Regions from separate parts of the Homo sapiens genome. Here region 2 is linked to region 1. The links come from fine-mapping of genetic effects on gene expression. Tissue or cell type: whole blood. Region 1 holds a variant in brackets; the other region holds the start of a gene. All regions are shown on one strand. Distances are between the middles of the regions.

Evidence for each region. PIP is the estimated chance that this variant, and not a neighbour inherited with it, causes the effect.
Region 2: it holds the start of RAD50, and the variant in region 1 is fine-mapped to the expression of RAD50 in whole blood (TOPMed, PIP above 0.99). The same link has a PIP of 0.9 or more in fibroblasts.

Annotation. Positions count from the first base shown.
Region 1 is chr5:132,593,205-132,598,204 of GRCh38, forward strand. It overlaps RAD50 (RAD50 double strand break repair protein), which reads left to right. Exons shown (of 25, transcript NM_005732.4): 12 at 1,665-1,840; 13 at 2,369-2,606. Among named protein-coding and RNA genes, the nearest start is that of RAD50, 39 kb to the left of the region's middle. The variant G/A (reference allele first, on the strand shown) is at 2,072.
Region 2 is chr5:132,554,036-132,559,035 of GRCh38, forward strand. It overlaps RAD50 (RAD50 double strand break repair protein), which reads left to right and starts at 2,942. Exons shown (of 25, transcript NM_005732.4): 1 at 2,942-3,418. The coding sequence starts at 3,290. It also overlaps a transcript of IL5 not described here. RefSeq lists an enhancer at 2,565-3,225.

The DNA.
Region 1 (5,000 bases):
ACCCACACTTCACCATAAATTTGATACTTGTTCTTGCTTCAGTTTAATTGGGGCTCTTTTCAAACTGATGTCTTAACCTTGTTAGTGCCTTAAACTAGATCCTATTCAGACATGTTATAACAAGTTAGTATGAGTTTGTTTCAGTGCAAAACATTTTGAACTTCATGCATAGTTTTTTTTATAATACACATTTTCCATGAACATTTTGAAGACCCCTCATATTTTGCAAATTAAGTAAAATGGTAACGGATAGTAATTTAGGCCTCTTGTCCCTTGAAAATTTGTAGACCTATGAAGATTAAAATTTAAAAATTCTATTTTCATTTCTGTGAGTAATCCATTATAAAAAGTGATCATGTTTCTCAGATGTTACCTTGGATAGTGGTTGGATAAGCGGGTCAAAAATTCCACACAGATTTTTGAGGAAAGTAGAAGGACTTGGCTTTGGTGGTGTTTAATCTGTGTTTCTTGTGGAAGTATCTGTGAGGGAATACAATATTGGAGTTTGAAATTCAGGAGATTGGAAGTTGTTGCTATGTAAGGGATACTCAAAGTCATTAGTATGTCACCTTGAGAGAGTTATGCAAAGGGAAGGAGTTACAATTAGATTCCTGGGAAGCACAAACATTTAAAATGTTAGCAGGCAAAGGAAAAGGAGCAAGTGAAGGAAACTGGGATGTGCCCAGGGAACCAGGGTGAGAGCCAGATAGCTGTGGTGTCTAGGTGCCTTGGGAAAATAGTCTTCAAGGAGAAGGTCAACAGTGTTTGGTGCTACGTAGAGGTAGAGTAAGATGAAGACTGTACTTGGCACTTAGGTCACTGGTGATCTTGATGAGAAGTGCTCAAGGGAGTCTAGGATAATGAAAATATCATCATATTAGTTACTTTTTTCCAAATGTTTACTGTGACTCAGGATGGGTAGTCATGATGAAGAAGCATGTGTGCAGTCACACACATTTATCTGAAACAAATTTCTCAAAGTAGTACATATACATACAGCCTACTCCAATATATTACCGTCTATTCTGTTTCATTTTTAAAAAATATGCTGAATACATTAAATTGATTACATGGTAGCTAATGCATCTAAACCTGCAAATTGAAAAACCATGTTATGTGTGAGTATTGAGGTTGGCTAGGATGATGTTTAAGAATTAAAGTGGGGATAAATTGTACTAGTAAGCAAAATCTTTGATGAATGAGAGGGAATGACTGATCTGGACGCAAGTGGATGACAGCAACAAGGAGGGGGAGGATACAAAAGAAACAGTATTTACAGGAGAGTAAGGAAGTAGTATTTGTGAAAGGACTAAAGGGAATTACGGGGATGTTCTCTTGTCTTCTTTCTGTCCAATAGTCCTAGCAAGCATCTTGCTGAGGCTTAACCTGGGATCAAAGACCATGAACCCCCAGAAACCAGGCAGAATTCTGTGTACATTTTTCTGGGAGCAGGCCCATGAGTAGGACTGGCAGGTGAGTCAGTGTCCTAGGGGGAGAGTTAAGGCAGAAGTGGACTAGTCCCTCAACTTCTGAAAAAAATTATTTGGTCATACCAAACTCTTGTCATGATTTGTTGGCAGAATTTGTCTTGTTTTTGCCTACTCAAATTTTCAAACTAATTTCTCCTATTTTAAAATGAAAATCCATATTTGCTCTTATTTTAGCAAGGAACTAGCTTCATCTGAGCAGAATAAAAATCATATAAATAATGAACTAAAAAGAAAGGAAGAGCAGTTGTCCAGTTACGAAGACAAGCTGTTTGATGTTTGTGGTAGCCAGGATTTTGAAAGTGATTTAGACAGGCTTAAAGAGGAAATTGAAAAATCATCAAAACAGCGAGGTAAGTTGTCTACTTTATATTATCAGGATACTTTGACACCTTTGAATTTTCATTCACAGGTAACTGTTAAGGATGGGGAATTTAAAAACCTGGTTATGGAGCCTAATGGCTTGGATTTCAGTCCTGGCTCTACAACTTACTCACTGTGTGACTTTAGGCAAGTTACTGAAACCTTCCTGTGTTTCATTGTCTATAAAATGAGGACACAACTACCACCTGTGGTACTGAGGT[G/A]TGAATGAGATTGTAATTATAAAGCCCTTAGAACAGTGCCTGGCACATAGAAAGCTCTCAGTAGGCATTTTGTTATACTTATAATGTGTTACCAAAAAATATTTATACAAATCTGAATGTATCATGCTCTTTGGAAGCGAATATCGGAATTTTAAATATCAGAATTTTTATTTCTTTTATAATATATTTATAAAGCAAGAATAATCATATATTTATAGAAAAAGATACAACCGTATTCAGAATACTGTATTTTATGTTTTTTTCTCATTGGTGATATAATTTATTTTCTTAAAATAGCCATGCTGGCTGGAGCCACAGCAGTTTACTCCCAGTTCATTACTCAGCTAACAGACGAAAACCAGTCATGTTGCCCCGTTTGTCAGAGAGTTTTTCAGACAGAGGCTGAGTTACAAGAAGTCATCAGTGATTTGCAGTCTAAACTGCGACTTGCTCCAGATAAACTCAAGTCAACAGAATCAGAGCTAAAAAAAAAGGAAAAGCGGCGTGATGAAATGCTGGGACTTGTGCCCATGAGGTAAGAATGGGATTTACCTTCACTGTACATGTAGCAGCACATTGTAAAAGGTACCCATCTCATGCCTGGGCAGATGGTAGTTACTCAGTAAGGACTCTGAGCTGGTATGCCCTGTCTTATATCACTTCTATGATAAGAAGATTCAATTATTTTGTTTAAAGATAAGCTTGTTTCCTGTCTTTTTTTCTTTTTCTTTTTTTTTTCTGAGACAGAGTCTCTCTCTGTCACCTAAGCTGGAGTGCAGTGGCATGATCTTGGCTCATTGCAACCTCCACCTCCCAGAAGCGATTCCCATGCCTCAGCCTCTTCAGTAGCTGGGATTACAGGCATGTACCACCACGCCCAGCTAATTTTTGTAATTTTTAGTAGAGATGGAGTTTCACCATGTTGGCCAGGCTAATCTCGAGCTCCTGGCCTCAAAGTGATTGGCCCACCTCGGCCTCCCAAAGTGCTGGGATCACAGGTGTGAGCACCGTGCATAGCCAGTAAGCTTATTTCTTAAACTATGAGGTAGACACAGTCTTTACGTTCTTTTGTATGTGTGTTTAATTCCCAAGACTTAGCTTGTGGGCATAGATTTTCACAGATTTAGGACTGTCTGTTGACATGCCACTTTCTGAACCCAGCAAAAGAATTTAAGTATTGAAAAGTTCTCCCAGAAGACAGATTTTAAACTATGTTTTTAATGTCTTTTCCACTTGCTAAAAGAATGAATCATAGATGATTTTCGGTTGTTTATATTTTCCATCACTTATACAAGAAATTCGTGTTATGTTCTGTTTACAAACAAAAATCAAGTCAGGAAATATGTGATGATTGCCTTAGTGTCTCCCAGAACATAGAGAACAAGGCTAGTGCCAGAGACCTAAGACATGACCCTCCAGGAGCTAATGGTCTGATTAAGAAGACAAGCTCTCAGAATTCAACATTTAGAAAGCTAGGCTTAATAAAGTGCTTAAAAAATGATTCAAACAGATGTGTTAGGTAAGAAGGGAGGAGCCAATGGATACAGAATGAGAAGAATATTTTGAGAATGAGGCAGGAAGAGGAATATAAGACCTGGAGAAGTTCATTCAGCTCAACTGAGAGGAGACGGAAGTCAGAACACGGTGCAAAGGGAAGAGGAGTATGACCTATGCTGCAGTAGAAATGTTATCTGGAGTTTGGGGAATTATTTATAGGGATTGAGTCCTGTATGTTGGGGAGATAGGGCTACATTATATTCAGGTCTAGTTGTAACTCTGATAGGTGATGAGGAGCCAACCTAAGGGAGTTAGTGAAAGATGTATTTTAGGAAAATTAATCTAATATTAATATATTGACTGAAACAGGCTGAGAAAAGCTCAGGAAGCAGAAAAACCAGGAGAGTGAAAGTGATTGTCCTGGAAAACCAAGGAGGAGTTTCAGGAAAAGGAGAAAGAAAGGCCTAAGAAGATGTGGTTTGTGGCAGCCAACTTCTAAGATGGTCCCTAGTAATCTCGGCCTCTTGGTATTTATACTCTTGTATAGTCCCATCTCATGCTGTTGCATGATTGGTCTATATAACTGATAAAACAGGCAGAAGTGATAGCATGGCCTTTCCAACATTAGGTTATTTAAGGTACTATGGCTTCTTCTGTTCTCGCAATGTGCTTGTACCCTTGTGTGAACTCGCTCACTCTCCCCCACTCCTCCCCTCTCTCACTCACTCTGTCTCCCTCTGTCTCTTGTCTGAGGGAAGCTAGCTGCCATGTTGCAAGCAGCCCTCTGGAGAGGCCCATATGCCAAGGACCTGAGGCCTTTGAGCAAGTGAGTTTGGAAGCAGACTTTGTAGCAGTCAAGCCTTAAGATGACTGCAGTCCTGGCTGACAGCTTGATTGCGACTTCATGCGAGACCCTGAGTCAGAAGCGTATCTCTTGATCCTCATATCTCTGAGAAATAATAAGTGCTGTTATTTTAAGCTGCTAAGTTTTGGGATACTTTGTTATGCAACAATAGATAACCAACACAAGCATCAAGGGTGAAAACCAGATTATTGGGGCCACAGAGATGAGGAGACAGAGGCAGTAGTTTGAGAATAAAAAGGAAGGAGAGGAATAAGGTAGTATCTTGAAAAGAAAAAGATCAAATGGATAAAATTTGAAATTGGTAGAAAGTACACGTAGTAGAAATATGAGCTTAGTTCTGTGTTAGACTGTTATACAATAAATGGCAGAAATTAACATCGTATTATATTTTAGGACCCTAGCTATCACGGCTCCTTTTTTTTTTTTTTGAGACAGAGTTTTGCTTTGTCGCCCAGGCTGGAGTACAGTGGCGCAGTCTTGGCTCACTGCAATCTCCACCTCCCCGGTTCAAGCAATTCCCCTGCCTCAGCCTCCCAAGTAGCTGGGATTACAGGCGCACGTCACCAG
Region 2 (5,000 bases), 39 kb before region 1:
TTACTGTATGTTAATTATGCTTCAATAAATCTGACTTAAAAAATGGTCTTGGCCAGGCGCAGTGGCTCACACCTGTAATCCCAGCACTTTGGGAGGCCGAGGCGGGTGGATCACAAGGTTAGGAGTTCGAGACCAGCTTGACCAACATGGTGAAACCCCGTCTCTACTAAAAATACAAAAAATTAGCCAGGTGTGGTGCCACGTGCCTGTAATCCCAGCTACTCAGGAGGCTGAGGCAGAAGAATCACTTGAACGCGGGAGGTGGAGGTTGCAGTGAGCCAAGATCGCACCATTGCACTCCAGTCTGGGTGACAGAGTGAGACTCCATCTCAAAAAAAAAAAAAAAAAAAAAGTCTCCACTTGAATAGTCAATTATTCAAAGATACACAAATGGCCAATAAACACATGAAATGATGCTACTAATAATTATTGAAATGCAAATCAAAATTACAATGAGGTATCACTTCACACTCATCAGGATGGCTACCATAAAAAAACATAAAATAACAAGTGTTGGCAAGCATATGTAGAAATTGAAACCCTTATGCACTATTGGTGGGAATGTCAAATGGTACAACCACTGTGGAAAACAGTATGGCAGTTCCTCAAATAATTAAAAATTGAATTACTGTATGATCTAATAATTCCACTTCTGGGTATATACCCAAAAGAATTGAAAGCAGGGTCCAGAAGTGACATTTGTACACCAATATATATAGCCACACTATTCACAATAGCTAAAACGTGAAAGTAACCCAAATGTCCATCAATAGATGGATAAGCAAAATGTGATGTGTATTGTAATGAATCTTATTCAACCTTAAAAACGACCTGAATTCTGATATATGCTACAGTGGTCCCCAACCTTTTTGGCACCAGGGACCAGTCTCACGGAAGACAGTTTTTCCACAGACAGGAGTGGGGTGATGGTTTTGGGATGAAACTGTTCGACCTCACATCATCAGGCATTAGATTCTCATAAGGAATGGGCAAGCTAGATCCCTTGCATGGGGCAACCTACATCTTTCTCATGGGCAGTTCAAAATACGGTTTGTGCTCCTATGAGAATCTAATGCCCCCACTGATCTGAGGCCCAGCTCGGGTGGTAATGTTCACTCACCTGCTGCTCACCTCCTACTGTGCCACCAGGTTCCTAACAGGCCAGGTATGCATACTGGTCAGTGACCCAGGGGTTGGGGACTGAGCTGCAACATGGATGAACCTTGAGGACATTATAAGTGAAATGAGCCAGTCACAAAAAGATAAATACTGTATGATTCCACTTATATGAGGTACTTAGTAAAAAATTATAGAGACAGTAAGTAGAATGTTGGTTGTCAGGGTTTGGAGGATGTGGGGAGGAAAGGGTTATTGTTTAATGGGTAGTTTGTTTTGCAAAGTGAAAAGATTTGTAGAGGTTGAAAGGTGGTGACGGTTGTACGTGAGTATACTTAACACCACTGAAATGTACACTTGGTTAAGATAGTAAATTCTTTTTGAGACGGAGTCTCGCTCTGTTGCCCAGGCTGGAGTGCAGTGGTGCGGTCTCGGCTCACTGCAAGCTCCGCCTCCCGGGTTCATGCCATACTCCTGCCTCAGCCTCCTGAGTAGCTGGGACCATCGGCGCCTGCCACCATGCCCGGCTAATTTTTTGTGTTTTCAGTAGAGACGGGGTTTCACCGTGTTAGCCAGGATGGTCTTCATTTCCTGACCTCGTGATCCACCCGTCTCGGCCTCCCAAAGTGCTGGGATTACAGGCGTGAGCCACCGCGCCTGGCCAAGACAGTAAATTTTATGTGTATTTTACAATTTTTAAAATAAAAAAAGGTCTTTCGTCTTTTCCCATTGTTTTATTACATTTGCTTTGCCAAGTAAGACATTCCTATATAATTTTAATGTTTTGTTCCATTAGTTATTTTAACTATTTTGTAATAACTGACACTTTCCGGTTTTTTTTAACCTGGTACAGCAAGAGACTATTTCTCACTGGTCTTCCCCACTTGCATCCTTTGGCACATACATTTATGTATTAGGTTCTGTAAATTATTTGCTTGGGATTGTATGACTGGAGAAACATTTCCTACATTTTTCCAAGGCAGGCAGAGGCAAATTATACCACTACAGTAATTCCAAATTTGTGTTTCATTTAAATGTCCTCCACTATTGTTTCAGTAATTTTTATGTATGTTTCTCTAGGCCCTTAAATGTGATATCCCTCCATTAAGTTTGTTTCCAAGAAAGCAATATTCTCAGTTACTTCTGAGACAGGTAACTTCTCTTTCCCTTATTTTTAAAGATATCTATTGCTGGGAGCACTGATCGGAATGGATTACCTCTACATTCTTCATATTTGCAGACTGCTTTTAGTTTTAGTTCCCAGACTTTTGGTCTTAAAGACGCCTTTACACTAAAAAATTACGGGGGACCTCAAAGAGCGTGTACGTGAGTTATAATTATCAACATTTACTCAATTAGAAATTAAAATTGGTATTTCTAAGCGCAAGAATACACATGCGCACATTCCATTAACCGCCACTGCAATGGCGTCATCACATGTTATGTGATCACTGGAAATTACTACACGAACGTTAGAGAGAGAATGAGAATGAAAAGGAAAATAGTTTTGACACGAACTGACCCCGCTTCCTGGGTCTCCAATCCACCCCACCACTACCCCCATTCCAGGAGTCCCAGGATCAAGCTTTGGGAAGCGCCATCCGTCACAGGTCTTGGTCTCCCCTTCCAAAAGTCAGTGCCTCTCCAGGCTGCCCATCCCCAGCAAAGATCCGGAAGTCCGCTGCCCCTGGCAACAGCACCCAGCACCTAGCCCTCTGCTTCGCCGTACCGCACCCGGAAGTCGGAGCTGCGCACGCACCGCGGGACTCTGATTTCCCGGCGTGCCCCAGGAGAGCGGCGTGGACGCGTGCGGGCCTAGAGGCCCACGTGATCCGCAGGGCGGCCGAGGCAGGAAGCTGTGAGTGCGCGGTTGCGGGGTCGCATTGTGGCTACGGCTTTGCGTCCCCGGCGGGCAGCCCCAGGCTGGTCCCCGCCTCCGCTCTCCCCACCGGCGGGGAAAGCAGCTGGTGTGGGAGGAAAGGCTCCATCCCCCGCCCCCTCTCTCCCGCTGTTGGCTGGCAGGATCTTTTGGCAGTCCTGTGGCCTCGCTCCCCGCCCGGATCCTCCTGACCCTGAGATTCGCGGGTCTCACGTCCCGTGCACGCCTTGCTTCGGCCTCAGTTAAGCCTTTGTGGGCTCCAGGTCCCTGGTGAGATTAGAAACGTTTGCAAACATGTCCCGGATCGAAAAGATGAGCATTCTGGGCGTGCGGAGTTTTGGAATAGAGGACAAAGATAAGCAAATTATCACTTTCTTCAGCCCCCTTACAATTTTGGTTGGACCCAATGGGGCGGGAAAGACGGTAAGTCTTCAGTAGCCGCCTTCAGTTTACAGGTCGCTACATCTTTCGGAGAATAAAATGGGAAGTTGAGAACTCTCCTTAGGAGCAGAAGCGTCCCTAGGGCTCCACAGGTGTAGGCCCTTAAAGTGCCTTAGGGTGTGGCCTGCAGGCTACAGCGACCTTAGGAGTTTGCCTGAAGCAGTCTCGGAAGGATGTCCGGACCTGGCCTGGGGACAAGGTTTACTTAAGAATCCCACGATACCGGGAGCTGTCGCCGCTCACTCAGAGTTCAGTTCCCACTGGATGCCCTTTGGTCTGTATTGATGTTTTTAACGCTGTCTCCTTGCTTTCAAAGCATAGCATTCACTTCCCAGTAGTTGTCCCATACAAGAATTCCTTTAAAAGTTATAAAATGATACATACATGACTAAAGAGTTTCCAAGTATGCCAACTGTCCAGACATAATACATGGAAAATAAATAAATTCAAAATGTAACTGATGTAGTGGGGCTTAACTTGGAAAACTTCTCTTCTTAAAACTCAGTCAAAAATTTAACGTTGGTGCACGACTGACTTTTTTTTTTTTTTAAAGCCGTGGGAATATTTATAAATTTGAATGGAAAGAATAACCAAGAGGCATTCTGGTCAGGAATAGTGGCTTAAGAAAAAGCAAGACGATGTCAGTATAGCAGGGAGAAGAGTCTAAAGGAAGGATTTGTGAAGAGTGTAGAAAGAGAGAAGGTTGAGAATTGAATGCCAAACTTGTTTACTTTTGTTTTTGTAAAAATGTTATTTGTTGAATGCTTGTTATGTACTTAGGATTGTACTAAATACTAGCAGAAGGGAGAGTAGTACTGTATAGTGTTTATGAGGACTGGCTGCCTCAATACAGCTTTTTCGCTTCATTTATTAGTTGTCTGATTGTTTGCGAGTGACCTCACTGCTCTGTGCCTTAGTTTTCTCATTTATAAAATGGAGATTAAAAATAGTTTCTACAGCTGGGCACGGTGGCTCACGCCTGTAATCCCAGCACTTTGGGAGGCCGAGGCGGGTGGATCACCTGAGGTCAGGAGTTCGAGACCAGCCTGGCCAACGTGGCGAAACCCCATCTCTAATAAAAATACAAAAATTAGCCAGGCGTGGTGGCGCATGCCTGTAATCCTAGCTACTGGGGAGGCCGAGGCGGGAGAATCGCTTGAACCGGGGAGGTGGAGGTTGCAGTGAGCCGAGATCACGCCATTGCACTACACCAGCCTGGGTGACAGAGGGAGACTCTCTCCCCCCACAAAAAAAAAAAAAAAAAAAAAAAAGTTTCTACAGGCTGGGCATGGTGGCTGACGACTGTAATCCGAGCCGTTTGGGAGGCTGAGGCTGGGGGATTGCTTGAGCCCAGGAGGTCGAGAGGTCGAGGCTGCAGTAAGCCATGATCATGCAGCTGCACTGCAGCCTGGGCAGCAGAATGAGACCCTGTCTCTTAAACAAAAAGTTCCTACAGCCTGGAGTTAATGTGAGAATTAAATAAATGTATGTAAGAGTGCTTAGTACAATACAGTACTTAACTGTTAGCCATTCTTATTATTAACTTAAATTAGTTTAAAGGGTT